Linked DNA regions of Homo sapiens. The protein of the gene in region 4 purifies or fractionates together with the protein of the main gene of each other region. This does not show direct contact. Each region holds a gene or a part of one and is shown on either strand. Other genes may lie near its edges.

What was found.
Region 1: the proteins of NPY2R (region 4) and INTS1 purify together in Homo sapiens (affinity purification with mass spectrometry; 2 studies listed by BioGRID and IntAct, with this or other methods). This does not show direct contact.
Region 2: the proteins of NPY2R (region 4) and LTN1 purify together in Homo sapiens (affinity purification with mass spectrometry; 2 studies listed by BioGRID and IntAct, with this or other methods). This does not show direct contact.
Region 3: the proteins of NPY2R (region 4) and EVI5L purify together in Homo sapiens (affinity purification with mass spectrometry; 2 studies listed by BioGRID and IntAct, with this or other methods). This does not show direct contact.

Annotation. Positions count from the first base shown.
Region 1 is NC_000007.14:1,476,890-1,480,389, reverse strand, and holds part of INTS1 (integrator complex subunit 1), read left to right. Parts: coding exon 1-73; intron 74-705; coding exon 706-960; intron 961-1,504; coding exon 1,505-1,664; intron 1,665-1,883; coding exon 1,884-2,024; intron 2,025-2,453; coding exon 2,454-2,637; intron 2,638-2,716; coding exon 2,717-2,840; intron 2,841-3,471; coding exon 3,472-3,500. UniProt on the Homo sapiens protein: Component of the integrator complex, a multiprotein complex that terminates RNA polymerase II (Pol II) transcription in the promoter-proximal region of genes.
Region 2 is NC_000021.9:28,982,878-28,986,377, reverse strand, and holds part of LTN1 (E3 ubiquitin-protein ligase listerin), read left to right. Parts: intron 1-140; coding exon 141-239; intron 240-1,455; coding exon 1,456-1,686; intron 1,687-3,500.
Region 3 is NC_000019.10:7,836,718-7,840,217, reverse strand, and holds part of EVI5L (EVI5-like protein), read right to left. Parts: intron 1-3,500. UniProt on the Homo sapiens protein: Functions as a GTPase-activating protein (GAP) with a broad specificity.
Region 4 is NC_000004.12:155,214,606-155,217,576, reverse strand, and holds the end of NPY2R (neuropeptide Y receptor type 2), read right to left. Parts: coding exon 2,492-2,971; 3' UTR 501-2,491; downstream 1-500. UniProt on the Homo sapiens protein: Receptor for neuropeptide Y and peptide YY. The rank order of affinity of this receptor for pancreatic polypeptides is PYY > NPY > PYY (3-36) > NPY (2-36) > [Ile-31, Gln-34] PP > [Leu-31, Pro-34] NPY > PP, [Pro-34] PYY and NPY free acid.

The sequences.
Region 1 (3,500 bases), on a different chromosome or scaffold from region 4:
GGGCCGGATTCGGGTGGGGACCCAGCTCCGGGTGCTGGGCCCTGAGGACGACCTGGCTGGCATGTTCCTCCAGGTAGCGTTGCTGCTGCATGTGGGTCTCCACCTGCAGCCCCTCTTCCTGCGTGCAGCCTTCGCTGCCGCCTCGCACGCACAGCGGCCTTTACTTGCGTGACCGCCTGACCCAGGCACGCTGCACACGCACAGCGGCCTTTACACGCGTGACCGCCTGACCCTGGCACGCTGCTTTCACGTAACACCCCCATGCTCTCAGATGGAGGCTAGGCCAACATTGGGGAAGGGGGTCGCCCTGCATCCTCCCTGCCATCCTTGCACACCCCTCTGCGCGGGGCACCCGGTTTGATGTGTACAGAAGCTGAGGTTGCAGGTCTCGCCTGAGGTCTGGCTGTTGGAGCCGGGGATCCTGCAGGCCTCACCACCTCCTGATGGAGAGCCTGGTGGTCCCTGGGCAGGCTCTGGACACCTTTGTTCTCTGGGGCAGCTCCTGGGTGTTGGGGTCCCTCACTGCTTCACATCACAGGTCTCAAGGGCCCTGGGCCCCTCAGGCCACAAGGTGGGGGCTACGAATGAACAGGGACACGATGGGACGCGGTTCTGGCACGGAGCTGCACCGGGCGCTTAGCCTCTCCGCTGCGCTCCTCCTCCTTCTCCTCCGCTTCCTCCTGACACTGGCCTTCCCCGTTCCAGATTTTCCCGCTCAGCCCGGACCCTCGGTGGCAGAGCTCCAGTCCCCGCCCCGTGGCCCTCGCCCTGCAGCAGGCCCTGGGCCAGGAGCTGGCCCGCGTCGTCCAGGGCAGCCCCGAGGTGCCGGGCATCACGGTGCGTGTCCTGCAGGCCCTCGCCACCCTGCTCAGCTCCCCACACGGCGGTGCCCTGGTGATGTCCATGCACCGTAGCCACTTCCTGGCCTGCCCGCTGCTGCGCCAGCTCTGCCAGTACCAGGTACTTGGGCGTGGGCCTCTTGCGGGGGAGGAGGGCAGTGAGGGCTCTGCCTCCCGCAGGACGGCCCGGGTGTCCTGTGACTGCTCCTCTGTGGGTCTTGGGTCTCAGTTTCCAAGTGAGAAAGGACAGTGCCCCAGGGAGTGGCGGCAGGTCCCCTTTTTCCAGTGAACATTCCCCCGGGACGGGAGGTGGGGGCAGTGCGGCGTCCGCCTGTTTGCACCACCCAGGCTCGGCGCTCCTGCCTTGCTTTCCCCATCTGCTGGTACCTAGGACTGTGTTTTACTTGGTGTCTGTGTTTACTTTTTCCTTTGAACCGCGTGGGAGCCCTCACCAGCTGGGGGGTTTTGAAAGGGTCTCTGTGAGGTCGTCTGGGCCCGTGCAGGGGAGGCACCGTTTCAGACAGGAGGCGGGATGAGGTTGGCCCAGGCTCCAAGTGCCGGTCGCGGCAGGTCTCAGCAGCCTCACGGGCCCTGCTCTGGGCCTCGGGTGCCGGGTCCCCGTGTGTCCTCTGCCAGGGTAGCCACGTGCCACTTTGTCCCCGCAGCGCTGTGTGCCACAGGACACCGGCTTCTCCTCGCTCTTCCTGAAGGTGCTCCTGCAGATGCTGCAGTGGCTGGACAGCCCTGGCGTGGAGGGCGGGCCCCTGCGGGCACAGCTCAGGATGCTTGCCAGCCAGGCCTCAGCCGGGCGCAGGCTCAGTGATGGTGAGGACCGCGCCGGGCTGGCAGACGGCTGGGGGGCACTGGACAGGGGCTCACTCAGAGTGGCCAAGCTGCCTGGCACCCCGAGGCCTGGGCAGTGGCTTGGGGGGTGGGTACCCGCGTGGGCCCAGGGGAGCCCTTCTACCGTGGGGCCTCCCTGGATGGGATACACCGATGGGGTGAGGGCTGGAGCCACAGGGCACTCACACAGACCTCCCACAGTGCGAGGGGGGCTCCTGCGCCTGGCCGAGGCCCTGGCCTTCCGTCAGGACCTGGAGGTGGTCAGCTCCACCGTCCGTGCCGTCATCGCCACCCTGAGGTCTGGGGAGCAGTGCAGCGTGGAGCCGGACCTGATCAGCAAAGGTACCTTCCTGGCACCATCCTCTTGGGCCACGGCGGCCCTGGGAAGACCCAAACCTGAGGCTCCTTCTAGCTGCCCAGTGGGGGACGGACAGTGTCTGCTCAGCACTGTCCCCGGAAAGTGCCCACAGAGGTCCCCTCCCAGATGGCTCAGGGCGGGGCCTCTTGAGAATGAGTTGGAGCTTCCTCCTTGGGGGGCCCCTGATCACTGCTGCACCCAGCAAAGTGAGCCCCGGCCCCGGCCGCACTCTCCAGCCCCGGCCGCACTCTCCTCTCCGGCCCCGGCTGCACTCTCCTCTCTGGCTCCGGCTGGACTCTGCTCTTGTGTCCCACACATGCTCACCCCACACCCCACCCTGGCTAGCCCACACCCACTCAGCGGCCCCCACCCGACCTGGGAGTGACCCACATGTCTCTTTGTCCCTTGCGCAGTCCTCCAGGGGCTGATCGAGGTGAGGTCCCCCCACCTGGAGGAGCTGCTGACTGCATTCTTCTCTGCCACTGCGGATGCTGCCTCCCCGTTTCCAGCCTGTAAGCCCGTTGTGGTGGTGAGCTCCCTGCTGCTGCAGGAGGAGGAGCCCCTGGCTGGGGGGAAGCCGGGTGCGGACGGTGGCAGGTGAGCTGGGGTGCTGCACACGGCCAGGGTGGGCAGGCGGGTGGCACCAGCCCTTCCCTGAGCCACCTTCTCCCTGCAGCCTGGAGGCCGTGCGGCTGGGGCCCTCGTCAGGCCTCCTAGTGGACTGGCTGGAAATGCTGGACCCCGAGGTGGTCAGCAGCTGCCCCGACCTGCAGCTCAGGCTGCTCTTCTCCCGGAGGAAGGTGGGTGGCACCCAGCTTCAGCACGGGGACCCACCCCAGGGTAAAGGCTCTTCCTGACCTGAAGTGCAGCAGCCTTGGCCTGGGCGAGCCTTGCAGGGGCCCCAGCACCCCCCCTGCTCTCAGGCCATGTGTCCCTGTAGCAACCCAGAGGAAGGGTAGGTCCCCCAATGGCCCTAGCAGAACCCAGGCCAGGGTCACAGTCACCTGTGGACCAGCACTGTGACCAGCCAGATGTGGGGATGGGGTGGGTGGATGGGGTGGGGTCGGCCCTGCCAAACCCTGTAGATCATGTAGGGGCCTCCATCTTCCCAAAGGGAATGGGGCTGTGGCCAGGAGAAGGGAGGGCAGGTGCTGGGCTCCCCACATCCTCCAGGGAGGGACGGCCTCACCAGAGAGGCTGCATGGAGCCCCGGGCACCTCCGCTGTGTGGCATGGCTCCCGTGGGAAGGGGCGGGGAGATGCAGCGCAGCCACCAGGAGCGGCCCTCCAGCACCATGACGGGGCCGGTGTTACCGGCAGCACCCCAAGCCTCGGCTCTCTGAGTGGCTCATTGGGGAAGCTGTCAGCTGACTTCAGCAGAGCCTGCCATTGGCCCAGGTGAGGCCATCCGGGCTTCTTCCTCCCTCCCCAGGGCAAAGGTCAGGCCCAGGTGCCCTCGTT
Region 2 (3,500 bases), on a different chromosome or scaffold from region 4:
CTTCAAACTAGTCTCATATGGCATAAAGAGAAATAGTGTATTCTCCTATTACATAAAATAGACAAAGCTTCCAGAACAGAATAATCTATAGCCAGTTATTATGGTTGTTAATCCTAATGATGTTAATAACTTACTTTTAGGCTATGCAGGAATTTGGAACCATGTGTACAGAGAGAGACACAGAAACTGTGAAAGGAGTTCTTCCATATTGGCCAAGAATTTTTTGCAAAATTTCACTTGTAAGTATTAAAACTTTGCTAGTTTATTTCTGTTGTATATTTTTTGGTTGGAGTCATGGAGACTCTCAAATTTATAATGTTGATTTTTGGTGAGGGTTATTAAATGTTATGTCAGCATTGTTATGCAGATTGAATTGTTAACACTTGAGAAGAGCGTGGAAATAAAAAAAGAGATTGGGGCCTGGTATGGTGGCTCATGCCTGTAATCCCAGCACTTTGGGAGGCTGAGGTGGGCAGATCACTTGAGGTCAGGAGTTTGAGACCAGCCTGGCCAACATGGTGAAACCCTGTCTCTACTAAAAATACAAAAATTAGCCGGGTGTGGTGATGGATGCCTGTAATCCCAGCTACTTGGGAGGCTGAGGCAGGAAAATCGCTTGAACCCGGTGGGGCGGAGGTTGCAGTGAGCCAAGATTGCACCACTGCACTCCAGCCTGGACAATAGAACAAGACAATGTCTTTAAAAAAAAAAAAAAAAAAGATTGGATTGTGTTGGGTTATGAAGAACATTTAGGAAGTCTGTTTTCAGAAATTAGGTTGTTACTGGAGAATTACCCAGGTGCTTTCCAGTTTTAATAAATTTTGATAGTGATTTTATTCCCTGTATATTTGCTGCAGAAGAATGAGAGTGAGTTGCTTAATTATTGAAGACCCAACTTTTTTTTTTTTTTTTTTAATTGAGACGGAGTCTCATTCTGTCACCCAGGCTGGAGTGCAGTGGCGCGATCTCTGTTCACTGCAACCTTGTCTCCTGGGTTCAAGTGATTCTCCTGCCTTAGCCTCCTGAGTAACTGGGATTACAGGTGTGTGCCACCATGCCCCGCTAATTTTTTGTATTTTTAGTAGAGACGGGGTTTCACCATGTTGGCCAGGCTGGTCTTGAACTCCTGACCGCCAATAATCCGCCTGCCTCGGCCACCGAAAGTACTGAGATTATAGGCACGAGCCACCAGGCTCGGCCTCAAGGCCCAACTTTGAATCTGTCTTGAATACAATCCTATCTCATTGGGAGAAGGGGAGAAAGAAAAATTAATAAATTATTTTACATAGTTTCTGATTTAAAAACCTCCAAATTATTGATTTAAAAAAAATGATTTCAGTTTAGCTTAATACATAGGTGAATTCTTGGTAATGGGTCATTATAGCATATCCGGAAATGTCTGTGATTGTTTTTATGGGCTAGAGCTATTTTAAATCACATTTATATTTTTAATAGGATCATGACCGTCGCGTCCGAGAAGCCACACAACAAGCTTTTGAAAAACTTATCCTTAAAGTAAAGAAACAGTTGGCTCCCTACTTAAAAAGTTTAATGGGATATTGGCTAATGGCTCAGTGTGATACTTACACACCAGCTGCGTTTGCAGCAAAAGATGCATTTGAAGCGGCTTTTCCTCCAAGCAAGCAACCTGAAGCCATAGCATTTTGTAAGGATGAAATTACAAGTGTAAGTTCTGGAATCATTCTGAATCTATTTTTTTTTTTTAAGTATTTAAGGGTTATAAGCATAATGACAGCTCTTTTACTTGGGATTGTAGGGGAATGAGTAAGTAGAGTATTTCCAACTGAAGGTTGCCTTTTTAAAATTCTGTTTAGTTAAATAACCATTTTGGATCTTTAACAAGATTAACATTTTGGATTGGATCTTTCTACAGTATTTAAATTTTCCATTTTAATTTTGAAGTCTTTATTATATTTTTAAAAAGTAGATGTTTTATGTAATCTAAACAAGTAATATATCTAAAAATAAATCTAAAATTATTTTCTCTCGTGTTTCCATATCAATATATATATATATACAGATCTAACTTAGTGTCTTTTTCTTTTTATTGGCTCTCTGGTATTACTATACATGGATGTACTGTAGTTTATTTAACTTTTTAGATTAATATACATTTGGATTTTTTTCCAATTTTTATCATAACAAATGCTATTTCAGTAAACATTCTTGAGTAGATCTCTTCATACCCTTGTGGGAGTGATACTTACTAGAACTTCTAGTAAGCATATGTTGGGCCAAAGAATAAGAACATTAAAATTTTTTATAATGATAAATGGCCCTTCAAAAGGCCAAACAAATTTATACTCCCATTTTCAGATAAAGTTTCTCCACACTGGGCTAACACTTTTGCCATAACTTTCTCATAAAAAGTTACCAGCCATACCTGTTTGTGGCTTTCAGTGTGTCTGTTTCTAGTAGTGTCTCATTTCTTCCCCCTTCATTTTCTATTCCCAATATATGGACTAGAAAAACCAGACAACAAAGTTGTTAGAATTATATTGAGAAATAAAAGTAGATGAAGTAGAAGTGAGGAGGGAATTGATAATTTTTTAAAAAATCTATGCTTGCATTTATTCCCTTATTTAGTACTCCTGTGTTTCCACAACACCCTGTGTATAACCCTACTTAAACATTTCCATCTGACCCTCTCCCCCTGCTTTCCTTCCTCCTTTCAATTAGCCATCCTTCCTGTGGCTCTCCATTACACTTTTAAGTTCAAATTTCTTGTCTTGACATACAAGGCTCTGCATGATCTGGTCCCTGCTTCCCTATCTAATCTCTTCACCCAGCACTCCCCAACACATAACTTGATTGTAGTACCTCATTTAGGTTCTTCCATTCTTCATTTCTCAGGTGTACCAAGCGTGTTTTTCTAGAGAGAGGGTTTGTAGCTTTAATCATATGCTCAAATGGAGTTTTCTAACCCATCTGTAGCATAAGAATCATTGGTTGATTTAAAATGCCAAGTTATAAACGTTACAAGAGTGAAGTGTCATGAGTTTGGACGCTAAGAGCTTTAGGAAATGGATTTTGAGACAACTAGTTTGGCTCTTCATAGGCTTTAGAAAATAAATTTGTTCTTGGCTTTGTCATGGATGGATAACTAATCATTGAACATTGGGTTATTTCTTCCATTTTATTTTCCCTTTAGTTGGCTATGTTACAGTTCATTACAGCTGTTGGCATTGAACTGTCTCCAGTTCCAAACCCATGTATTAGAGAGGAGTTAGGCAAATGAAAATCAAAATGTCAGCATTATAGATAGTATATCATACTGTCTATAAGACATGGGCTCTGGGTCACACCATTGGTTCTAGTCCCACTCTGCCATCAGCTAGCAACTAGGTGTGTGACCTTGGGCAAGTTTCTGTGCCTTCATTTCATAATCTATAAAGCAGGAATTAACTTGTACTTCATGGAGTTCTGAGGATTGATTTAGTTAATGCCTAAAATGTGCTCAAAGCAATACCTGGCACATG
Region 3 (3,500 bases), on a different chromosome or scaffold from region 4:
CGTGAGCCACTGCCCGTGGCCTAGGTTTGCATTTTAGAAAGACCCTTCTGGCCCCTCATGCGGAGATGCTCTTCAAATTCAATGCTTTCCTGACAGAAGCAGGCCCCTTGTCCTACTGCGGGTGCATCTATCTGGGTCCCCGGTGCCACCTGCCACCTCCACCCACCCACTCTGGCCAGGCCTGGGTGTTCCCCTCCTCCCTTCTCATGTTCTAGAGCTCAGCCAAGTCTACCACCCACATCCCACACCTCACTCCCAACTGGCCTCTGCTCTCCAGGCTGGAAGCTGCTGTCTTTTTGTTGTTGTTGTTGCTTTTAGAGACAAGGTCTTGCTCTGTTTCCCAGGCTGGAGTGCAGTGGTGCGAGATCCTGGCCTCAAGTGATCCTCCCACCTCAGCCTCCTGAGTATCTGGGACCACAGATATTCGCCACCATGCCTTGCCAATTTTTCTAATTTTGGAGACTTGGGGTCTCACTATGTTGCCCAGGCTGCTCTTGAACTCCTGGCTTCAAGTGATGCTCCTGCCTCAGCCTCCCAGAGTGCTGGGATCACAGGTGTGAGCCACCGTGCCCCACCAAAGCTGCTGTCTTGATGGCGCCTGCCACGTCCATTGAACTTTCTGTCCTTTCTGATGCTCTGTCCATGGGGCCACCAGAACCATACAGAACTGCAGCTCTTGCCACGTCATTGCCTGCCTAAGACCCTTTAGCAGCTCCCAATGGTGAGATGGAGCCCAGATGTCTTTGCAAGACGTGCATGCCCTTCCCAGCCTCGCCTCTTTCTGCATCCCTGCTTGGCACACTCAGTCCTCCAGGCACATGGGTCTCCTGATGTCTGCCAGTGTCTGTGCATACTCTGTTCCCTCTGACTGGAAGGGCATTCTCCAAGACCCGGTTTGGATTTTTTTTTTTTAGATGGATGGAGTCTTGCTCTGTCGCCCAGGCTGGAGTGCAGTGGCGCGATCTCGGCTCACTGCAAGCTCCGCCTCCTGGGTTCACGCCATTCTCCTGCCTCAGCCTCCTGAGTAGCTGGGACTACAGGCACCCACCGCCACGCCTGGCTAATTTTTTGTATTTTTTAGTAGAGATGGGGTTTCACTGTGTTACCCAGGATGGTCTTGATCTCCTGACCTTGTGATCTGCCCGCATTGGCCTCCCAAAGTTCTGAGATTACAGGCGTGAGCCACCGTGCCTGGCCAAGGATTTTTTTTTTTTTCTTTTTAGAGACAGGGTTTTGCTCTGTCTCCCAGGCTGGAGTGCACTGGTATGATCATAGCTCACTGTTCACTGCAGACTTGACCTCCTGGGTTCAAGTAATCTTCCCGCCTCGGCTCCTCAAAGTGCTGGGACTGTGCCTGGCCGGTTTGGCCATTCTTTCTGTGAAAACTTCTCTGTCAACCTCCCTTCTTCCAGCATCCTGGCTCGCTTTTCCCCCTCTCTCTCCCTGAAAACATCCACCCCTCTGCCTACACCCAAGCCCAATGCACATTCTATGGCAATTATTTCTAAACCTGCCTGCCTGCCTGCCCTAGGGTCATGCACGATTTGAGGACAAGAGCCTCTCTTCTTAATTCTCTATTCCAAGCCCCTAATGCACTATCTGGCATTCAGTACATGCTCGACAAACGTTTGTTGAATAAATGAAGATGAAACTTTCCATGTCGCTTAGGCAGGTGATCAAGGTCAACATCAACAGTGATAAGTTACGTGGCTAACACGTACCCTTGATAGGATGTGACAGAAAGGACCCTTCACCCCTGTGGTCTTCCTCCCCAAGACCCCAGTCTAACCATGAGAAACACCAGAGTGGCTGGGCATGGTGGCTGACACCTGTAATCCCAGCACTTTGGGAGGCCAAGGCCGGCGGATCACTTGAGGTCAGGAGTTTGAGACCAGCCTGGCCAACATGATGAAACCCTGTCTCTACTAAAGATACAAAAAAATTTGCTGGGCGTGGTGGCACATGCCTGTAATCTGAGCTACTCAGGAGGCTGAGGCAGGGGAATGGCATGAACCCAGGAGGCGGAAGTTGCAGTGAGCCGAGATTGCACGACTGCACTCCAGCCTGGGTGACAGAGCGAGACTCCGTCTCAAAAAACAAAACAAAACAAAACAAAAAAAAACCAACCAAAAAAAAAATAAACACACCAGACAGATCAGTATTAGAGGACATTCTACACAACACCTACTCCACCTTCCTCAAAACCGTCAAGGTTGGCCGGGCATGGGGGCTCACACCTGTAATCCCAGCACTTCGGGAGGCTGAGGCAGGCAGATCGCCTGAGGTCAGGGGTTCGAGACCAGCCTAACCAACATGGAGAAACCCTGTCTCTACTAAAAATACAAAATTAGCCGGGCGTGGTGGCACATGCCTGCAATCCCAGCTACTTGGGAGGCTGAGGCAGGAGAATCGCTTGAACCCAGGAGGCAGAGGTTGTGGTGAGCCGAGACTGCACCACAATTGCACTCCACCCTGGGCAACAAGAGCGAAACTCCATCTCAAAAAACAAAAAACAAAAACCAAACCAAACCAAACAAACAAAAACGTCAAGGTCACGAAAAGCAAGGAAAGTCTGAGAAACTGTCACAGCCCAGAGGAGGTTAGGGAGACATGACGACTAAATGTCATGTGGGATCCTGGGATGGAAGAAGGTTACTGGGAAAAAACAAAGGAAATCTGAATGAAAGGTGGACTTTAGTTAATAATAATATATCAATACTGGCCCATTAACTACAACAAATGTATCATATGAATGGAAGACATTAACTATAGAGGAGACTGGGTATGGGGCATATGGAAACTCTGTATCGTCTTCTCAATTGTTCCATAAATCTCAAAGTGTTCTACAAAATAGTCTTATTTTATTTTATTTATTTTTTATTTTTTGAGAAGGAGTTTCACTCCTGTTGCCCAGGCTGGAGTGCAGTGGTGTGATCTCGGCTCACTGCAACCTCCACCTCCCAGGTTCAAGTGATTCTCCTGCCTCAGCCTCCCAAGTAGCTGGGATTACAGGTGCGCACCACCACGCCCGGCTAATTTCTGTATTTTTAGTAGAGATGGGGTTTCACCATGTTGGCCAGGCTGGTTTTGAACTCCTGACCTCAGGTGATCCGCCCGCCTCAGCCTCCCAAAGTGCTGGGATTACAGGCGTGAGCCACCACAACTGGCCATTTTATTTTATTTTTGAGACAGGGGTCTCACTCTGCTGCCCAGGCTGGTCTTGAACTCCTGGCCACAGGGGATCCTCCTGCCTCAGCCCAAGTCTATTTTAAAAATAATAATAAAGGCTGGGTGCGGTGGCTCATGTCTGTAATCCCAGCACTGTGGGAGGCTGAGGGGGGGCAGATCACTTGAGGTCAGGAGTTCGAGACCAGCCTGGCCAACATGGTGAAACCCTGTCTCTATTAAAAATACACACACACATACAAAATTAGCTAGGTGTAGTGGCGCATGGCTATAATCCCAGCTACTCCTGAGGCTGAACCCAGGAGGCAGAGGTT
Region 4 (2,971 bases):
GATTAAAGAAACACGTAGGAATTAAAACAAGATGTGGGAATTAATTAGATACATGCGATAAAGAGACTTGTAAAGGGTGATTCCAAAATGTAAGGCTTTTGGGAAATAGGTACATAGTAGTGTCATGATTGAGACAGAGAATACGGGAAGACAACGTGGAGGGGAGATGGGATGAGGTGTGCATTGAAATGGCAGGTTCTGTTTGAGATTTGATTTGCTGGTGAGACACCCATGTGGACATGGTCTATTGGCCGGTAGAGATACAGAATTGAAGTTAAGAAGAAAGGTCTTGTCTGAAAAATGAAGATCCACGTATCCTCATATTATGTATTGTAATTGCAGTCGTAAGAGTGGATCCATTGACTCAGGTTCAGGTACAGAATGGAAAGAGAGCTGGACTAACTGTGGAACAGCAGCCCTTATTTTTCTTTTTTAGTTGCATTAGTCTTACTGCCTTGTCTTAGACAAGCACTCTGATATAAAATTCCACACAATTTCTCTCATTTTCCCAACTTTTTAATTGCAACATAAAGCCTCTACATAAAAGGTATTTTATTAATGAATTGACATAATGAATTGGATAAGATATATGTTAATTGAATCATTAATTGGATTCTAATAATTTACTAATACAACATGTAACACAGTAGCATATACATTTCTTACAGTGTAATAATTCACCAAGAGGGAGGGTAAATCTTTAACCACAGTTTTCTATTAGCATCTTAAGCAAAGTGACTGCTACTTAAAAGACAAAAAGGTTATTTTTGAACAATTTGCCTAGTCTAACAGAAAAATGAATCATTTGATTATATATTACAGATATACATTACTTTTTGTTCGCTTCTTAAAGTCTTACACCTAATCTAACATATTGTTTTCATTCTTTTTCAGTATTCCAGAAGTGCAGTGCACTTAAAAACCAGTCCTTTATATCTATCATGGAAGGAATTTAATAGGAGCTATAATATGAATTTTAAATATATCCACAAAGTAAAGCTCTCCAGTTCATAAAATTAATGTTGTAACTATATATCATATGCATGTTGAAGTTTTTTGCTTTAAAAATATATTCACAAATTCTGTCATATTTACAAAAATATGACTAATGAAACTTTAATAGCATCTAAAGACGTATGACTATTTTAACATCTCAGTTGTTATTTTTTATGAACATAGAAGGTTTTTAAGCATCTTTGGTTGGGTACTATTGAAATAACAATTTTATTCATAATATAATTAAATAAAAAATACTGTAGCATCTATGTTCTACAATTTATAGAAACAATTTTTATGTATATATTCATATTATATAAAAATATAGCTAATTATTTTGAAAAGAAGACAAATAACTTATGTGAAACTGGTTTGAAATACAACATTTGCAAGATGAAATGAATCCAGTGTTTTTAGTACCTCTTACAGATAGGTCCATTTTAATGTAATTACATTGTTTTATTTAGTATGAATGGGTCCGTGGAGGATGAATTTCAAAGAAAATAACACTGCAGTGTTCTTTAAATACATGAGAGCTATGTACCTGTGCAAAAATAGCTTGTAAATACTGTGAAATGTTACAACATGCCACAAAAATTATTCTCTAGTCTGATTTAAATTTTAGTGTAGACAAACTTAGCTCCAATAGGAATAACAACAGAAATCATACATGTTCAAAAAGGTATAACAATAAAAGTATCAAGTTGTATTCTTGTTATCTAAATAGTATCTCCATAAAGCGGATGTAACTTGAAATTAGAAATTAAATGATGGTTTGCATTTCCTGTAATTCTGAGAATTTCAGCTTTTGATTCAGAGTTGAAGAAACTTTCACCAAACGTGCAATTGGTTTTAAGAACAATTGGCCCACTGAGTGTTGAGGAGTTCCCCTATCATCTGCCAAAATATTAATTATATAGCAAATTTCAGTTTATCTCCTCGAAGCCATTCGTATAGTTGGCAATCGTTTCCTGCAGCATTCCCTGATGGATTTTGTCTAGAGAATGAACAAAAAAATCAAAATGCGATGAAGGAGAGCCTGTGGCTCCCTGGAGAAATTTCTGTTCAGTGGTGTTTTCATAAGCCAAGCAGGGAGCAGCGAACTGCACACCTCCTCAATCCAGGTCCTAACGTGATTTGAAAGTCAACTTATTTTCCCACCGTCTCTCAGCAATGCTTTGATAATACCAATTTCTTGTTCAAGTTTTCTTCACTCCAGGAAAATAATCAAAAGTACTTCTCTCTGCTTTTACTCATAATGCAACCTACTACCCAACCAACTGTTAAGTAAACCATTTTGTTGCCTTATCTTTGAATTCCAGTATTTTCACACAGGCTCTGCCCAGCCAGTTTTCCAGGAATTAAACAGCAGATGCTTCCATTTAGATCCACTTCTTCTTTAAAATGGGAAATCAGTTTTCACTTGTGAGCCGCCATCAACCAGATTCATAGCTCTGGTCAGAATTCATCCATACATTTTCACACCACAGCTTCCTTAGACATTGGTAGCCTCTGTGAAAGAGTCATTGGGGCCACTGTTCTTTCTGACCTCCAGGTTCTTTTTAGCCTTGAATGTCACGGACACCTCAGAGTGAATGGCATCCAACCGCTGCTCACAGCGGAAGGCCGAGAGGAAAGCCTTTCTGTAGTTGCTGTTCATCCAGCCATAGAGAAGGGGATTGGCAAAAGTGGAGCACATGGCGATGATGTGGAACACTGTGAAGATGAGTTTGTACTCCTTCAGGTCCAGGACCTGGCTGTCAATGTCAACGGCAAGCTGGAAGGCATGGAGAGGCAGCCAGCTGACCGCAAACACCACCACCACACACACCAGCATTTTGGTGGTTTTTTGCCTTCGCTGATGGTAGTGGTCATTTGCAGCTCCAGGACTGACATGGTTCTTCAATTTACTCCAAATGCGAGTGTAGGAAAATGATATAATGCCCAGAGGCAAAACATACAAGATCAACAAGGA